Homo sapiens: one gene and its partners. The protein of the gene in region 3 interacts with the protein of the main gene of each other region in a biochemical or structural test. Each region holds a gene or a part of one and is shown on either strand. Other genes may lie near its edges. The genes, in order: SERPINB3, RXRA and CTSL.

The links.
Region 1: the proteins of CTSL (region 3) and SERPINB3 form a complex in vitro, tested with the Homo sapiens proteins (2 studies listed by BioGRID, with this or other methods).
Region 2: of the proteins of CTSL (region 3) and RXRA, one has a biochemical effect on the other in vitro, tested with the Homo sapiens proteins (one study listed by BioGRID).

Annotation. Positions count from the first base shown.
Region 1 is NC_000018.10:63,654,657-63,658,970, reverse strand, and holds the end of SERPINB3 (serpin B3), read left to right. Parts: intron 1-340; coding exon 341-458; intron 459-1,558; coding exon 1,559-1,701; intron 1,702-1,984; coding exon 1,985-2,140; intron 2,141-2,909; coding exon 2,910-3,314; 3' UTR 3,315-3,774; downstream 3,775-4,314. UniProt on the Homo sapiens protein: May act as a papain-like cysteine protease inhibitor to modulate the host immune response against tumor cells. Also functions as an inhibitor of UV-induced apoptosis via suppression of the activity of c-Jun NH(2)-terminal kinase (JNK1).
Region 2 is NC_000009.12:134,427,377-134,434,493, reverse strand, and holds part of RXRA (retinoic acid receptor RXR-alpha), read right to left. Parts: intron 5,387-7,117; coding exon 5,254-5,386; intron 2,590-5,253; coding exon 2,498-2,589; intron 393-2,497; coding exon 287-392; intron 1-286. UniProt on the Homo sapiens protein: Receptor for retinoic acid that acts as a transcription factor.
Region 3 is NC_000009.12:87,721,744-87,729,136, reverse strand, and holds the start of CTSL (procathepsin L isoform 1 preproprotein), read right to left. Parts: upstream 3,019-7,393; 5' UTR 2,739-3,018; intron 1,777-2,738; exon of another isoform or gene 1,669-1,776; intron 1,544-1,668; 5' UTR 1,534-1,543; coding exon 1,408-1,533; intron 1,111-1,407; coding exon 988-1,110; intron 888-987; coding exon 741-887; intron 553-740; coding exon 328-552; intron 1-327. UniProt on the Homo sapiens protein: Thiol protease important for the overall degradation of proteins in lysosomes. Plays a critical for normal cellular functions such as general protein turnover, antigen processing and bone remodeling.

The DNA of each region.
Region 1 (4,314 bases), on a different chromosome or scaffold from region 3:
CAAAGATCAGAAACATCATGGTTGAAATTACTGGAAAGAGGTCTGAGAAGCAATGAATCTCCTTCAGGGAAGCCTGCTCTGCAGTTTGCAAACCACAGCCTCTTCTGCTTCTGCCTTTTGCCAGATGATATTGACCTTCGGTGACCTCTTTCTTGCGCCAGCCCGCACTCCGCTTTTGCATTGCCTACATGGCACCAGTATAAAAATATGCATGGACAGGAGATACTGCATCTATTCAGGGTCTGGATTCAGCTTACTATAATTATAAATAACTAAATTTGGTAATATATAGTTACATAAATTACTCTTACTTCCTACTTTCTTCCTTCATATCTCAAAGGAATATTTAGATGCCATCAAGAAATTTTACCAGACCAGTGTGGAATCTGTTGATTTTGCAAATGCTCCAGAAGAAAGTCGAAAGAAGATTAACTCCTGGGTGGAAAGTCAAACGAATGGTAGGAGAGCCACCCATTATAGAAACACCTTTGAGAAATCTATGCGAGTGAGCCCTATGCCTGAAACTGCATGGGGGACCATGGGTGGGAATTGAGATGGCTTTGCAGGGAGGGAAGAAGAGGGCACTCCAGATGAAGAGTTTTTCCAAATGATTATGAAGAGAGCCTAGGGGAGCCAAGGAGGAAATCACAGGAAGCCAATTAGAAGAAAACATAGCCGGAGGATTCTTTGCTCATGTTCCTGGATGACAATAGCTTTGTGGATCCCTTGTCTCCACTCAGGTCCAATTTGAGATCATGTCCTTTACTTTAAATCAGAACCAATATTTTATGATGAATATTTAAAAGGAAACATTAGAAAGCATCTCCCTTCCCCTTTACTAATTGGGAAACAAGCAGCTCTCTGGTAAATCACCCTTTTGCCATCTGAACTAGAGCTGCCTGGATCACATCTCTAGCCACAAGTTCTGCAGGGATTATCACAGCTCTCTTCCCCATCAAGGGCAAGAGCTTAACAAATTCTCCATTCTATAGACATCTATCCTACCTCCCACCTCTCATTACAGGCCAAACTTACAGCAACTCAACATGAGAGTGAATAGGAAGATACCCCCGGAAGTAGTGTCTGACAGCACAGGACATGCGTTTCATATTACAGAGCTCATGTCACTTGTCCTAAAAAGCAGTCAGGGCCTACTTCCTCTGAATGGGGACCCCGTAGTTAAAAAAAAAAAAAAAAAAGTAGGAAGAGGAGGGAGGGAGAAAGGAAAGACACATGTTGAAAGAGTAGACAAAATCAGTTTATCAGTATTCCAAATCAGATGAATGGACTCATTCATACACAGAGAACGTGAACTCCTTCTCTATCACAAGAAGTGATGTCTCCATTAAGGGCAACTTTATACGACTGGAGCCTTGAAGAAAGCTGCATCTGGTGAACCACTGGTCAGTGAGTCTAACAATTCAAAGATCAAAGTCAGTGAGTCTCAAGTAGGGATTTGGGTCAATAATTAACGATCAGTCACGAACATTTGCAAAGCATCTTCCAGACAAGCCATTTGTAGCTTGTGTAAAAGACTCTTTTATTCTTTCCCTTGCAGAAAAAATTAAAAACCTAATTCCTGAAGGTAATATTGGCAGCAATACCACATTGGTTCTTGTGAACGCAATCTATTTCAAAGGGCAGTGGGAGAAGAAATTTAATAAAGAAGATACTAAAGAGGAAAAATTTTGGCCAAACAAGGTATTGTCTATATTTTATTTATATAATGTAATATGTTAATAAATTTAAACATTTCTGATGGAATGTACCATGACAAGTAAAAAATAAAATTGTTCATGTCTGTTTTTTTGTTGTTTTAGTCTTATAACTTTATTTAGTTAGGAATTCCTGAAGAAGCTATTGTCTCTAACTCATTACATTCTTGGATTATTTCTTAAAAGAAGGATGTGTTGATATCTCAATAATATTATCTTTTTGCCTTGTGTCTCACTTGGTATTTGTTGGACACATTGATTTATTGTAGAATACATACAAGTCCATACAGATGATGAGGCAATACACATCTTTTCATTTTGCCTCGCTGGAGGATGTACAGGCCAAGGTCCTGGAAATACCATACAAAGGCAAAGATCTAAGCATGATTGTGTTGCTGCCAAATGAAATCGATGGTCTCCAGAAGGTAAGAACTTGCATCTACAACTCTTCCTTCTACTGCCTGACATTTTTCCAAAGATACCAAGTTTAAACAAGGTAAAAGCTGGTGACCGAGTTGCCTCAAAATAATGAAAAATTCTAAATGAGGAATGATGACTCACCTTCATATTACAAAGATTTAAGCATAGGGCCTGACACAAACTGAAGGCATAGTTAATGATTAATTTATTAGAGTTACATGCATTGGATATCAATTTAATGATATTATTATGCAGCAATTTAAACTTGACTGGGAGAAATATATAGCAATGTGAGGAAAGTTTACGAATACACCAAGTAAAAAAGGGAATAGAAATTTAGGAATTTGGGGAATTGCAATTTAATAATTGCAATGTGTACTAAATAATGTATACAGAAAAATAAGATGAGCCTATTAAAAATTGACACATGTAGTAGGCTGTTGGCACAAGAAATAGTGATATATATAGTTCATTGTGTACAAAATAATGTAATCATATTTTTACATGTGTATCATACAGTTGTATACATACATATGTACACATTACATATACATAAAAACTTGATTCTGTTTATACACATACACATATAACCCAATGTATTTATATATCCAGGACTCATATTTTGCCTATTAGAATAATAATATCTAATAAAGTGAACCTTCTGTATTTCACATTTGTTGCCAAAATAAGGATTCTCCACATAGTCAATTCATTGTTAAGGTGTATTAGAAATCAACAGTTAGTCATATCAGTTTCTTTTTTCCATTTGTATAGCTTGAAGAGAAACTCACTGCTGAGAAATTGATGGAATGGACAAGTTTGCAGAATATGAGAGAGACACGTGTCGATTTACACTTACCTCGGTTCAAAGTGGAAGAGAGCTATGACCTCAAGGACACGTTGAGAACCATGGGAATGGTGGATATCTTCAATGGGGATGCAGACCTCTCAGGCATGACCGGGAGCCGCGGTCTCGTGCTATCTGGAGTCCTACACAAGGCCTTTGTGGAGGTTACAGAGGAGGGAGCAGAAGCTGCAGCTGCCACCGCTGTAGTAGGATTCGGATCATCACCTACTTCAACTAATGAAGAGTTCCATTGTAATCACCCTTTCCTATTCTTCATAAGGCAAAATAAGACCAACAGCATCCTCTTCTATGGCAGATTCTCATCCCCGTAGATGCAATTAGTCTGTCACTCCATTTGGAAAATGTTCACCTGCAGATGTTCTGGTAAACTGATTGCTGGCAACAACAGATTCTCTTGGCTCATATTTCTTTTCTTTCTCATCTTGATGATGATCGTCATCATCAAGAATTTAATGATTAAAATAGCATGCCTTTCTCTCTTTCTCTTAATAAGCCCACATATAAATGTACTTTTTCTTCCAGAAAAATTCTCCTTGAGGAAAAATGTCCAAAATAAGATGAATCACTTAATACCGTATCTTCTAAATTTGAAATATAATTCTGTTTGTGACCTGTTTTAAATGAACCAAACCAAATCATACTTTTTCTTTGAATTTAGCAACCTAGAAACACACATTTCTTTGAATTTAGGTGATACCTAAATCCTTCTTATGTTTCTAAATTTTGTGATTCTATAAAACACATCATCAATAAAATAGTGACATAAAATCATTTTTGCTTTACATTTTCTCTCTGGAAAGGGAAAGTGTCCAGTTACACACAGGAAAGACAATTTAGAGATATATTAATCACAAACAAAGGAAAATTAAAAACAGAGTAGTTCATGATGAGCCTGGAGTAGAAGGCATATCCCAGAACAGGAGGAGCCTTGTAAACCACATTAGGAACTTCCTATTTTATGCTAAAGGGATAAGAAACTCATTACAGGCTTTGATGGTTGTTTGTCAAAGAGGGGCATAAAATTATCATATCTTCATCTTGAAAATACATCTCTGGTTACTCTGATATCAATGGATGAGAGGAAAGAACAGTGTGGTTACCATATATAAATCAGGAAATCATTAGAGTATTGGGGGTGGAAATGAAGAGAAAGAAACAGCCTGGCAGAATTATTTAGGAAGTAATAGTTAAAAAAAGACATCTAAGTTTCTGAGCTATCTGACTGGAAGGATGGAAGAAAATGTTGTTTTTGAGAGAAAAAAAAGACCATGGGTTTAAATTTGTACTTGATGAATTGAGGTACTTTTAATA
Region 2 (7,117 bases), about 47 Mb from region 3:
GGGTGAAGCACAGCCTTCATCTATCTACTGAACAAAGAGAAGCACCTACTATGCGCCAGGTGCAAGGTAATCCTTCCAGTGGGGATACGACGTGGGCCTGTGGGGTGTGCCCGCCACAGCCCACTGGCCTGGAGGACCTCCTGCTGCCTGCTCAGGACCTGCTGGCATGGGCTGGGCCTGGGGAGGGTGCCACCTTCTCATTCACATAAAATGGCCTTGCAGGGGGTGGGGGCTCTGGAGACAAGAGCCTGGGTCTGGGGTGTGTGTGGGACGGGGCGGGACCCACCTTCCCGGCTGCTCTGGGTACTTGTGCTTGCAGTAGGCCTCCAAGGACGCATAGACCTTCTCCCTCAGCGCCTCCACCTCGGCCGGGTTCGAGAGCCCCTTGGAGTCTGAAAGGAAGAAGCCACAGGTCAGAACCCTCAGCTGGGGCGTGTCTCGGGCACCTGCCCCCAGGACCCAGGCTTGTGTGGGGTCTCCCAGGCTGCCCCACCATGGGCAGAGCAGGTGGTGGAGGAATGCCGCTGGACATGCCTCCGCCCGCTCCCCCAGAGCCTGGTGGCAGGGGGACGACTGTGGAACCCACGGCCAGGCCAGGCTGCTCTGGGTCCAGGCTCAGCTCTGCCACTTGCCAGCCACGTGACCTTGGGTCAACTATTTGACCTCCAGAGACTCGGTTTCCCCATCGATAAAGTGTCAGGGATCTGCTGCCTTCCTTCCAGCCGCCTTGGGAACTGGGAGAGACAATGGATGCTGCTGCTGCCCTTGGGTCCCAGCCCCATAACATGGATGGGAGATAGCGCTGCTGCCCCCAGGAGTACCCAGACCCTGCGGAAACCCATCCTCGGTGTGCTTGCGGAGTCCTGAGCTCAGGACCCGGGCTCAAGAGCCTAGAGTGGACAGAGAGGCTAAGATTGCAGCCACCAAAACCTCCAAGGCCCAGGGACCCCCTGTGAATGCCACCTTGGCCCCCAAGGCCCAGGGACCCCCTGTGAATGCCACCTTGGCCTGTGTCCTGGGCTCCTTGGCAACGTACCTGGCTCCCCCAGCTGCCTCCGCTCCAGCCAGTCTCCTCGCCCTCCCTGCATGCCTGTGCCCTGGTCTCTTCGCTTTCCCTGCAAGCCTGTGCCTGGACCCTGCTTGTGCCAGACAATCTCACCCTCCCTGCAAGCCGGTGCCCAGGTCCTGCTGGTGCCCCAGCTCTAGCAACCAGACCACACAGGACCTGAATGGGGATTCCTCGGGCCGGGCCGGGCCGTGGCATGACTCAGCCTCCGAGCTGGCAGGATTACGGCCCGGATGCACAGCCTGGGTGATAAAATGACCCTGGAAACAAGCTCTCCCCACAAGAAGATGCCCATCTCCATCCCGGCCCGGTCCCTCAGAGCCAGGTCTGACAAAGGGCAAGGTCAGAAGGTCAGGGCCAGGAGCCGAGAGGGCTCCACTCCCTCCACCATAGCCCAAGTGAGCTCCCCACAGCAGCCCCAAACCTCTCCCTCCACACCCCAGCCACCTGCCCCTATCACGCAATGAGCTGAGTTTCCAAACACAGAAACCCATAGCTCCCTCCCGGCTGGAACCCCTCAGGACTTGGCTCCCTGTGGCCCCAAGAAAAAACCCAAACTTAGCAAGACTTTCAAGGCCCTGCCTGGGCTGCCTCCACCAGCCCACCCCACCTCCGTGCCTCTCACTCCCCTGGCCCCTAACTTGCAGCTCCCGGAGGAAGTGGCCCGCACCCTCGACCAACCGTGCTCCTGCCCTCACGTGCCGGGGGTGCCTGCTGGTGGGCGTGACCCTCTAAACCCCAAGCTCTAGGCAGGCAAGCCCTATCCAGCAGCTTGAAGGGGCCCTCCCATGCCAGCAGGGCACCGAGCAAACAGGCACGTGTCAGCACTTGTTGGGCGAAGGAGTAGCACCTAGGAGGCTTTTCAAGCCGAGAACCCAGAGGCTGGAGAAGGGCCGCACTGTCGGCCAGGAGGCCTGTGCCCAGCCCCAGCCCCACAGCCCCAAGCCCTGCTCTCCTCAACCACAGGGGCCCAGCCCCAGAAACACCCTGGACCCGAGGCTTGGGGATGAGGTTGGTCCCCTCTGGAACACCCGGCAGGCCTGACCCATCCCCAGCCTGCAGGGCTTGGGACTCCTGAACTTCAGCACCGGAAGTTCACAACCACAGCTGGCCACTTTCGGAGTCTGGATTCCGACGCACAGTGATGAACACTATGAACCGCGGAGCCCAGACGGCACCACCAAGCCCCTCATGACAACTGCCTTGCTGGGTCCCCCTGTGCCCAGGGACCATGCCCCCTTGGCTGGCCCTCAAGGTGAGCAGAAGGCAGCATGGCCACACTTTCACTGGGAGGGGGGCACACTGAGCTCAAGGAGGGTGGGAGTTGGCCCCACATGTAGCCAGAGGCAAGAAGTACAGCCAGGAGGAGGCCCAGGCACCTCTGCCCCACCAGAGAACGGGGCCAGAAGCCTCAAGGCAGGAAGGCCATACCAGGGTTAAAGAGGACGATGGCGCGCAGGCAGCCCAGCTCCGTCTTGTCCATCTGCATGTCCCGCATCTTGGACACAAGCTCCGTCAGCACCCTGCAGAGGAGGAGGGCAGACACCCCATCCCAGTTAGGTCGCAGCCCTCACCAGGGCCACACCCCAGATACCCAAGGCCTCTGGAGAGCCCGGCGTGGCCCGAGGGCCGCTGAGATGGGCCAAGCCAAGGCAAGGACTCCCAGACACCCCGAGAGGGAGTGGGCTGGAACCCAGGCCCAGGTGCCGCCCCTGCCAGGCCTGCCTGGCCCTGCCCGGAGGGTGGGCTCCTCTCCTCTCCCTCTAGGGTCTGCCTGCGGGGCTTTATTCTGGGAACCGAGGTGCTAAGGAGGGGCCTCGTGACAGCTAAACTGAGGTGAGCCGCAGCTGCACAGAGGGCACAGAGTCCACCCCTCCCGAACCCAGTGAGACACACCACTGTCCCTCCTCAGCTGTGGACCCAGCACCACCTGAGGCAAAGCCCCTTCCCATGCCACAGCCCCAGCCGCTCCCTTCAGTCCAGGAAGATACCTTTCCCCAGGGCCTGGTGTCCCTGGGTGGGGGCTGCCAGAGGGAGGCATGTCTACTTCTTGTCACCAGAGAAAAAAAATCCACCAGCCTCAACACGGGGAAAGCCCGCCAGCTCCCTCCATGGAGACGCTGGGGGCGTTCTTGGATTCAGACTCAGCTGCCCCAGCCCTGCAGCTGGATTCTGAATCACACCAGCCTCTGCAGTGTACTGGGCCCCCTAGCCTCAGCAGCCTGCCCACCAACCCCAAAGCTCAACTGCTGTGTCCAGGAAGTAAGGGTGGGCCACAGCGGGGGAAAGGAGGTGACCAGGTGGGGATGGTTGCCTAAGGAGCCTGGGCTCTCCCCTGTGGGCCAAGGGCGGCCCTGAGGGTCTGCAGAATGGGGAGTGCCCTGGTTGATTCCTGGAAGAAGATCTGAAGGAGGCTGGAGAACAGGGTGGGACAGAACAGGAGCTGGGAGGGACCCCCGATGTCTGCTCTGAGGCAGGAGCACACAGCTGCAGAGGGATGGGGCAGCGGGCATGGAAAAGACCTGGGCCACTGAGGGCAGACTTTGCATTCCACTCGCAAAAAAGGCGAGGAAATGCCGGGGCCTCTGTAGTCACTGCTGTGGGACCCCAGAGAATGTAACCCTGAAACCTCTGTCATCGCCATCTCTCTACCAGCCAGACAAAGGATCTGTCAGCTGGGCAAGTGGCTGGGGCTTCGCTTCCCAAAGCCATATCCCCAGTACCCCTCTAAAGAAGCTTCTGTGGGCAATACACACTGCACACTGCACCCTGCAGCCCCCGTGGGGACCCTCCTGTACACTAACTTCTTAAAGGCCCTGACAAGTCCTGCGGCAAAGACCCTCAAGGACACTGTTTGAACTACCGTTTGCCCACCGTCTGCGGCCACAAACCCTTTTGCACTTGGCACATCCCATGGAGGTCAAGTTCCAGGATCACCCTTGGGACTCTGGGACCTGAACCACCCCCTGGGGCATTGCTGCTGGGGCATTAATCCCCCTGTAAGTGCCGGTGCATGGCCTCTACTCACCTCTAACGTTGGGGCTCTCGTGTTCAGGGGCCACGTTCTCCAGGTGGCCTGCTCCTCCCCACCCACGGCTCCTGTGTTGCAGACCCCTGCCCAAGGGACCCCGCAGTGCCCCTCCCCAGCCTTCCCGCTCCAGCTGAAGCTGACATCCGGTCCCCAGAAGGCCCAGTCTGGTGTGTGTGGCTCTCTAGACTCGTGGAGAAAGACTGTGCAGAGAGGCCGGGCGCGGCGGCTCACGCCTGTAATCCCAGCACTTTGGGAGGCCGAGGTGGGCGGATCACGAGGTCAGGAGATCGAGACCATCCTGGCTAACACGGTGAAACCCCGTCTCTACTAAAAATACAAAAAAAATAGCCGGGCGTGGTGGCGGGCGCCTGTAGTTCCAGCTACTCGGGAGGCTGAGGCAGGAGAATGGTGTGAACCCGGGAGGCGGAGCTTGCAGTGAGCCAAGATTGCACCACTGCAATCTAGCCTGGGCGACAGAGCGAGACTCCATCTCAAAAAAAAAAAGGCTGTGCAGAGACAGGGACAAGGAAGCTACTGTCCGCCTCGCCTGGCAGAGCGGAGTTGGCCAGCACTCCAGGAGGGCAACATGAACGGACACGGACCACCCAGGCCCGGACGAGGGTGGGCCCTCCAGCCAGTGCTGCTCCTCCAGTGTGTCCCCTGAGAAGTGGCTGAGGTGCAGCCCTTTGCTCCACTGGGAGGTGTGAAGCACTGCGGTCCCGACACCCCTGCCTGCACGGGGACAGGCGTTAGGCCGCACCACGCCCCGGGCTGCCACGGCATTACCGTGCCAGCCTCAAGCAGCCTGCGACATGCCAACTGGAATTGACACTTTTACAAAACTGCATCTACGGTATAATCACTTTAAAAAGAAACGAAGCTTTCCTTCCCACGGATAAATACATGGGATCGTGAAAAAAGAAGAGATGGAGGGAGATAGGCCAAGTGCTCCCTGTGGTTACAGATGCCCCAGAGGCAGGGCTGGCACAGGGCTCTGAGCCTCCTCCTCATGCTTTTCTCTTTTTCCATGTGTGCACCCTTCATGCACTGAAATAATACTAGGCAGGATGTGCACCGGGGCCAAGGTGGCTGAACTCAGCTGGCCTGGTGGCGGAGGTGACCGAAGCGCCCTCGCCCCTCCCGGGACCACCCCCACCTGTCAAAGATGGCGCCCACCCCTGCGCTGTGGGCGCTGTTCCGGTGGACGTGCAGCCCGGTGGCCAGGAGGATCCCGTCCTTCACGGCGATGGAGCGGTGGGAGAAGGAGGCGATGAGCAGCTCATTCCAGCCTGGGGAGGAGGCACACAGTCACTCAGCTGTCTCCAGGCCCCACGGGGCTCGCCCCTTCCCCAGCCCCTGGTGGGACCCTACAGAGGCAGCATGTCACCGACCCATCCTGACAGGCTCTGGAACCCCAATCCCATGAAGTGTTCCACAGAAAAGAGGTTCCTGAGAATGCCCGTTCTACAGTACACACCGGCACACGAAAGGCCCTGAGAAGTCCCACACAAAGTCCCTTGAGCTTTGTGGAACCCGGGAGCTCACAAACTCATGTGCCCCAGAAGCTTCCTCCCGCGTGTGCAGGACACTCCTGCCACGGAGCACGTGGGAGAGCACCCAGGGATGTTCCCAGGATGGCCCCAGAACCACTGCTGCCAGCAGGGTCCCAGGACTCTCGGGGATCTGTGTGCCCTTCGTGGAATGCCACCAAACAGCAGGTTATCCAACTGAAGGCAGGTGCGTGAGAGCCGCAGCCTCTTTCGGGGGGATTCCCAGGGGGGAAGGTTAGGTAACAGCAGCCCCTCAACATAGTGGGGGTTCCCTGGGGCGGGTGGTTAGGTAACAGCAGCCCCTCAACATAGTGGGGGTTCCCTGGGGCGGGTGGTTAGGTAACAGCAGCCCCTCAACATCGGGGGGTTCCCTGGGGGGTGGGTGGTTAGGTAACAGCAGCCCCTCAACATAGTGGGGGTTCCCTGGGGCGGGTGGTTAGGTAACAGCAGCCTCTCAACATAGTGGGGGTTCCCTGGGGGGCAGACAGTTAGGTAACAGCAGCCCCTCAACATCAGGGGGTTCCCTGGGGGACAGTTAGGTAACAGCAGCCCCTCAACATAGTGGGGGTTCCCTGGGGGTCAGGTGGTTAGGTAACAGCAGCCCCTCAACACAGTGGGGGTTCCCTGGGGCGGGTGGTTAGGTAACAGCAGCCTCTCAACATAGTGGGGGTTCCCTGGGGGGCAGACAGTTAGGTAACAGCAGCCCCTCAACATGAGGTTCCAGTGCAGATGAAGCAGAGCAGGCATCGGGGAGGAAGAAACAGGGACCCTCGCGTGCACACGCACTGCTGTTTTAAGGGCTCCTGGAGACCGGGTGACGTGGAATCACCTGCAGTCACACAGTCAGGGACCCTCGCGCACACACGCACTGCTGTTTTAACAGCTCTTATAGACAGGGTGACATGGAGTCACCTGCAGTCACACAGTCACCTTCAGCACCTTCCACACTCCCTGAGCGCTCTAGAGGCTCCAGCCTCTATGGCCGACACTGTCATTAATTTCCCACTTAATCCCAACTGTAATCCTGGAAAACTGGCATTAACTTTGTTTTACAGAGGGGGAAACTGAGGCATGAGGGGGTAAGTGATCAGCAAGAAGTTGGTGGGGACCACCGTGCCAGCTCCGGCTCGGCCCTCCACACCCTCCCAGCACATACCCACCCTGTCATGGGGAACCCGGGGGCAGGTGTCACCGTCCCCATTCTCCCCATTTCACAACTGAGTAATCCCAGGGCCCCAGGAGGGAGTTCCCACCCCCGAGGCCGCCCCGCCCAGGTGTGCTGACAGACCAGGCAGGGATGGCACCCAACTGGCCCCAGGCTGTGCAACCAAAATGAGGGAGGAACGGTGGGGTCTGTGCCCCATCACCGTGGGAGCATGCAGACGGCACCACGGGCGGTCTGATGGAAAAGCCAGGGCTGGAAATACCGTCACAGACTCGGGACTGGCACCTCCCCGCCTGTCATGCATC
Region 3 (7,393 bases):
CTGGAGAGTGCATTTGCACAACCACCTCCCACACTCAAGCAATCGCCCTACCTCAGCATAGCTGGGACCACAGACGCACACCACCACAGCCGGCTAATTTTCGTTGTATTTTTGATAGAGTCAAGGTTTCACCTTGTTGCCCAGGCTGGTCTCAAACTCCTGAGCTTAAGCCATCTGCCTGGCTCAGCCTCCTAAAGGGCTGGGATTACAGGCGTGAGCCACCCCACCCAGCCCTAATATATGAATTCCGAAAAAGGTATCTGTTATCTCTTAAAGTGTCCACCTTCCAAAAGCTGAGCTGGAATGATGACAAGGAGCTCCACTTACTGTTGCCTCATATGGATAGGATTCCTCAGAGTCCAGGCCTCCATTATCCTGAACATACTGGAAAGCATAATCCATTAGGCCACCATTGCAGCCTTCATTGCCTTGAGGCCCAGAGCAGTCTACCAGATTCTGCTCACTCAGTGAGATAAGCCTCCCAGTTTTCCGGAACATCTGTCCTTCAAGAGCACCAGTAGCACTAAAAGCCCAACAAGAACCACACTGACCCTGAAAAGGGAATTAAAAAAAGCTGTCATCCACAAAAAAAAAATAATAAGACTTTGACAACAGCTCACACATCTGAATACTGTTAAAAAGTGAACTGTACATCACTTTAAAGTCTACCAAAACAAAGATGTCAATCACTTCTTGGCTTTCCTGGGAAGATGGGAGGTCTGAACCTGACACTGTCTCACCTGATTCTTCACAGGAGTCACGTAGCCTTTCTCTCTCCAATCCACAGATCTGGGGGCCTCATAAAACAGAGGTTCCTGGAACACTTTCCCCTTCCTGGGCTTACGGTTTTGAAAGCCATTCATCACCTGCCTGAATTCTTCACTGGTCTTCAAGGAAAAGGAAATAAAATGTTGAAAAGCAAGAGATTACCTTAGTAAAGAACCGAAGAGAGGAAGCACAGAGCTCGGCAGTCCACAGCACACTTACCATGTCTCCAAAGGCGTTCATGGCCATTGTGAAGCTGTGTTTCCCTTCCCTGTATTCCTGATTGTGCAGTTCAATCATCTTCATGTTCTTCTCCCACACTGCTCTCCTCCATCCTTCTTCATTCTAGAGGCAAACATGTAACTGATGCTCTTTACTTCTACCTAAAACCCAACTCATCCTCACCAAGTGAATCTGCAGACAGAGATGGAAGAGAAACCATGGCAAGGGAAGGCTTGACACCTCTGGGGATGCTGTTCTCCAAACTGAGACACAACAAGGATGAATGTCCACATTGTGCTCATAATCCACGCCATTAGGTTATTACATTAGGCTATTGGTAAAAGCTGGCCTCTAGAAGCTACTCTCTGACTAAAACTTCTCAACAGCCAGGACTATTCTTTCTGGGGAAGTTTCACTAACCATGCCGTATAATCTGTTGTGCATCGCCTTCCACTTGGTCCACTGTGCCTCTAAACTGTGATCAAATGTTAGAGTAGCTGAGGCAATTCCCAGGCAAAAGGCAGCAAGGATGAGTGTAGGATTCATGTTTTAAAACCTAGGAAGGGAACAAAAATGAGGATCTGATTAGACCAATCCTAAAAAGCCATCTTACTGCCCCCTGAAAAATTAGGGCCACCATGGTAGAATAAAAATATTTAAATTATTCTCCCAAGCATTTACCCAAGGACTGTGGAAGAGGCCAAGGATGTGCCTGGAGAAAAACAGGGCACGTGGAGGTACTGGATGGACTCACCAAAATGAAAAGCAGCCTGTCCAGAGCTGTAGGAGCTGAAACAGTTTATGCGATGACAATTTAGGTTATGAGAACGGTATGAAACTACCTTGTGTGTGAGAAGCTTAAGGCAACAACTAGGAAACCGGGAAACGGTTGATCCAGGTTTTGTACCAATCGCAAAAAATCCAGGTTTCGTGCCCAGGCAAAACCTCACTAATGATAAGGTGGGATTCCCAAGTAGGGACAAAGAGATCCCCAAGAGTTAGGAGGCCTTCACACATCTTCCTGACTAACAAACACCAAAAGCTGAGATAAGTTTTCCAATCTCTCCTATTTATTTATTTATTTATTTATTTATTTATTTATTTATTTTTTGAGATGGAGTCTTGCTCTGTGGCCCAGGCTGGAGTTCAACGGCGCGATATCGGCTCACAGCAACCTCTGCCTCCCGGGTTCAAGCCATTCTTCCTCAGCCTCTTGAATAGCTGGAACTACAGGCGTGCGCCGCCTCGCCCGTCTAATTTTGTATTTTCAGTAGAGACGGGGTTTCACCATGTTGGCCAGGCTGGTCTCGAACTACTGACCTCAGGTGATCCGCCCACCTCAGCCTCCCAAAGTGCTGGGATTACAGGAGTGAGCCACCGCGCCGCCCCAACCTCTCCTTAAATGAAACCTTTCTGAAATGCTTTCCCAGGAAAAACTGGGAAGGAGAGCACGCACTGCTCCCTCCTTCATTCACTTGGGCCTGTGCTGCCGACACCCCAAACTGCTCCCCTAAATCAGGGACGGGGTCATATGGCCGCACGCGGGAAGCCAGCGCCCTGCAGCCAGCTTCCAGGGCTCCAGGCGTGGCAGGGCCGGGGACATGACGCCTGCGCCACACACTGGCTGTAGCGGTCAGAGGATGTTTGCGGTGACGCCAGCAGGAGTACCGCTGTCTGGCGTGCGGGGACTGAGCTTCCCTGTCTGGCCGGGCCAGGCCCTGAGTCGGCGCGGCGCGGCCTGGCTGCGGTACCTGTGTCCACCCGGCTCGGAGGCTGGCCTGCCCGCTCAACCAGTCACGCGCCTCCGCGGGGTCCTCAACTGCCCTCCCCGGCTTCCCCACCTCAAGGCCAGCAGAGTTCGGGGTAGACGCTCTCGTTGCCAGGGCTGGTGCACACCTACTCGACCGCGTCCTCTCTTCCAGTCCCTGTCCGGCCACAGCTGGGCCTGGCCGGCGGCGCTTTCCTGCTGCGGTCGTAGCTGCGCAGGCGCACTCCACGGATGCCGCTCAAGGTTGCGGAGGTCGCGGTTCTGGCCCAGCTTCGCCTGACTCTGCTTCTAAAACCTCGGGTCTGGGTTCGGCCGGCACCGCCCCGCCGCCTGGCTGCGCTGCGATTGGCTGTGCCGGCAGCTGGGCGGGGACTCTGGGTGCTCTGATCCCTGGCGCGGTTCGTGGCTTGTTTACTGACTGTCCCAGAGCTGGGCGTGCCTGCCTCAGTGGACCTGGAGGAAGCAGAGCTGGTGCCCCGGGGCGGCGCAGAGTAGGGTCGGGCGTCTCCCTGGAGCGCTCGAGTCAACTAAGTACACGACTTACTGCACTGGGCGAGTGGCTCCTGAAAAGACGTTTACCGCAAGCCCTGTGTGGACTGTTTCAGCCTAACCTTGCTATTCCTTAGTCCTGGAATTTTTGGTCCGCAGAGCCGAGAGTCAAGTGTACTCTAGTCCAGTGGCTCCTGTTTAGTCCACAGCAAACGTGGGGCCGGGTGGACGAACGCAGAGCCCGCGGGCAGAAGCCTTATCTCCCACTTAAGGGTGGGTGCAGCTGGGCTTTAGAAGAATCTGGTAAGGAAAGGCATCCCCAAAACACGAGATGCTATCGTCAAGACCAGACCCTAGGAGGGAGGAGACTGGCTGCGTCTCCAGAGAGCGCGGGCGTTTTGTCAAGCATCCTTTCCAGACTCCTCCATTCAGGGATTCTTCCTTCTCCCACGTCTTACCCAAAACCAACAGAAATGAGTTATTTACAGAAACATTTGGTTGACAGGAGAAAAGCAGTTGAGAACATTAGAAGCTGCTTTTATTCGCCCACTCTCTAGGCTATGGATTATATCTTCCTTGGTAACCAAGTCGTTCTCTTGAGATTTAAGAAATTTAATGACATTTAATGTCAGGATTTAAGATACAGAGAATGGAGAAATGTTGTAGATAGAGGAAAAATATGTATCTTAATCTGTATAATGTAGATATTAATTTATGTAATTAAGGATTTAAGGAACAAAACCCACAAACATTCTAAACTTTTGTCATTTCATTTTTTATTACATAAAAACATTCATTGTAGAAAATACCTTTCGGGGAAAAAAATAATTACCTCTGCCTTTACCCCATAACCTTTTCGTATGCATATTTTGACTTTGTTAAAAATGAACAAAGTCCATTGATTTCTATTGAAGATTAAACTGATAACTCTTTTAGAAGCACAATCACCTATAGTTTTTTAAGTGGTAAAATATACCTCACATAGCAAGTACCATTTTAACCAACTTTGAGTTCAGTAGCATTAAGTACCTTCACATTGTGTAACCATTACTACTGTTTATTCCCAGAGCTTGTTTATCTTCCTAAACTGAAACTGTATCCATTGAATAATAGTTCCCCATTCCCCCTCTCCTAGCTCAGGTATCTACCATTATATTTCCTGTCTGCAGGAATTTGTTTACTATTTTGGAGATTATTCCTCTTTTTTTTTTTTTGAGACGGAGTCTGGCTCTGTTGTTCAGGCTGGAGTGCAGTGGCGCAATCGCAGCTCACTGCAATGTCTGCCTCCTGGGTTCAAGTGATTCCTCTGCCTCAGCCTCCAGAGGAGCTGGGACTACAGGCGCGCACCACCACGCCTGGCTAATTTTTGTATTTTTAGTAGAGATGGGGTTTCACCATATTGACCAGACTGGTCTTGAACTCCTGACCTCGTGATTCGCCTGCCTTGGCCTCCCAGAGTGCTGGAATTACAGGTGTGAGCCACCGTGCCCGGCCGATTATTCCTCTTTTTATGCATTGCTTCTCTGGAGAACCAGTCACAATGTGTAGAATACAATCTAACTGTGATATCTGTCCTAGTCTCTTTTCTGTTGCTAATAACAGAATACCTGGAACTGTGTAATTTATGAGAACAACATTTATTTCTTACAGTTTTCGAGGCTGGGAAGTCTGAGGTCCAGGAAGTGTATCTTGTGAGGGCCTTCTTGCTTGTGGGGATTCTTTGCAGAGGCCCAAGGTGGTGTAGGGCATCACAGGGCGAGAGGGCTGAGTGTCCTAGCTCAGGTCTCTTCCTCTTCTTTTAAAGCCATCAGTCCTGCCTGGGCGCAGTGGCCCACACCTGTAATCCCAGCACTTTGGGAGGCCGAGGCAGTCAGATCACTTGAGGTCAGGAGTTTGAGACCAGCTTGGCCAACAGGGTGAAATCCTGTCTCTACTAAAATACAAAAATTAGCCAGGCGTGGTGGTGCACACCTGTAATCCCAGGTACTTGGGAGGCTGAGGCGGGAGAATCACTTGAACCTGGGAGGTGGAGGTTGCAATGAGCCGAGCCGAGATCACGCCACTGCACTCCAACCTGGGTGACAGAGCGAGACTCCATCTCAAAAAAAAAAAAAAAAAAAAAAAAAGCCATCAGTCCCATTCCCAAGATAACCTGTTGGTCTATGAACCCATTATTCCATGAATAGATTAATGTATTCATTAGGGAAGAGCTCATATGTCCTAATCACCTCTTAAAGGCCCCACATTTTAATGCTGCCACATTGGAGATAAGTTCCAACAAGAGTTTTGGAGGGGGCAAACAAGGAAACCATAGCAGTATTTAAATTTATTATTTTATGAAATAAAAACAATATTTCTGTGGTGTTAGGTAACTGGAGTACCTACGTCTGCCTTGGTTCTAACTTTGCAGATTTCAGGATCACAAGAAGTTCATTGGAACAGCTGAATGTTTCTACCGGGGGCTTAGAGCTCACTTGGTCCTTCATGAGTTCCTTACTGGGGAGTGTGAGAGAAACTGCTCAGATGGCCTCCCCTTCCCCAAATTTGAAAGAGAAAGAGAGAGAGTTGTGAGTGAGTGGCTTTGCTCTCCAGCACTTGCTTAGTGAAGAGCCTCAGAATCTGGACTGTGGCCTCCCAGTTCTGAGGAACCCCATTCGCCACCAGGAGGGGTGGCATGTTCACCCCGTTATTCAGGAAGGAATTGGAAAACAAACAATCGAGGGTGTGAGGTCAAGAGCTAGAAAATCGCAAGCCTCTGGCACCTGAGCCAGGGCAGATGCTGGGAGCACCTGCAGGATACTCCCATATTCTGCCACCTTGGTACTTATCAGCCTCTGAGAACTGAAGCCGGACCCTTTCTTTGCTTGAGCAGAAGATCAGACCAAAGAGCTCATTGACTCAAGGAGCATCATGGCAACTGGGCTGTACCCGGAGGGGAAGAATCCAGGGTCTGATCCACAACCAAGGCCTGAAGAAGTGGGGCCTGTACTTGACCTACCCAGGGTGAGTCATGACCCAAGTGCTGGGGCTCTAGCCATGGGTGGTCCTTCCAACCATTTCCAGCTTCCTCCTGCAGAGGGGCTGGTGTTTTTCTTCATTTTCCATAACCTCCTTGGGAGCACAGGCTTTGGTTTCTGCCTTCCCTGGATCAGGTCTCCCACAATGCAGTTGCTCTAACAAAAACTATTAGCAACAACATAGTACCACAGAAGCCAGCTCCTTGCTAGCAGTGATTGCTGATGATATTGTCTTCTAGAGACCATTCTAATGACTAGACAGCCTCGGTGCAGGAGGAGCTGTTGTCGGTCATGAGGAGCATTTCCTTGTCTATGTAGAGGAACTGAAACCGATGTGGCCAGCAAAATTTACCCAAAGCAATCACTGGGATACTCATCACACCCTCATGGCCCATTGTATCACTTTTGTTCCCTATATATGTGGTCCCATTTCCTCAGGACCAGTACTCCCTTATGTGGGGAGCAGGACTGATGCCTTGAGTTACTTATAGTGACTCGTTAGTTGGGGGATTTGCTAGTATTTTCATCAAACTTGAATCTAGTGAAACATTTGATTGAACTGGCTTCCAAATTGAAAATAAACCAACACCACTCAGGAAACCTATTTACAGCGAGAAGTCAGGAGTGGGAATGCATCTTGCACTGTCACCTTGATTAACAATAGCTCTGACCTGTGGGAGGACGGTCCTCTCTCCTGTAACAAACATAGGGTAGTGATGGGCCAGGTCCTGCTGCTCCTACATTCTCATCACTTAGATAAGCACAGGCAGGTGACTGCAAGCCTTCCAGCCTCCACCAGCATCCTCCAGTTCTCCCCTGACCGCTCTCATTCATATTCCGCACTGATTCAGAGGTCCAGTCCTGAGTGGCAAAAAGAAACATGCGTGAGCCTTTCTAGAAATCAATCAATCATTCATGGATTATAGTGAATTCTTCCCTACTAAACACATCTCCAGAAATTCAGGCGTAGTAACTCCCTTCCTGAATGTCTTTCCAAGGCCCTAAGTGACATTGATGTTCCATAGACAATGTCTTACACGGCAAAGTGCTTCTGGGGGTGGGAACCTGCTGACCTTCCCTGGAATCCTGACTGCAGGTTCTGTTTAGAACATGGGGTCTCATTTTGAGAAGC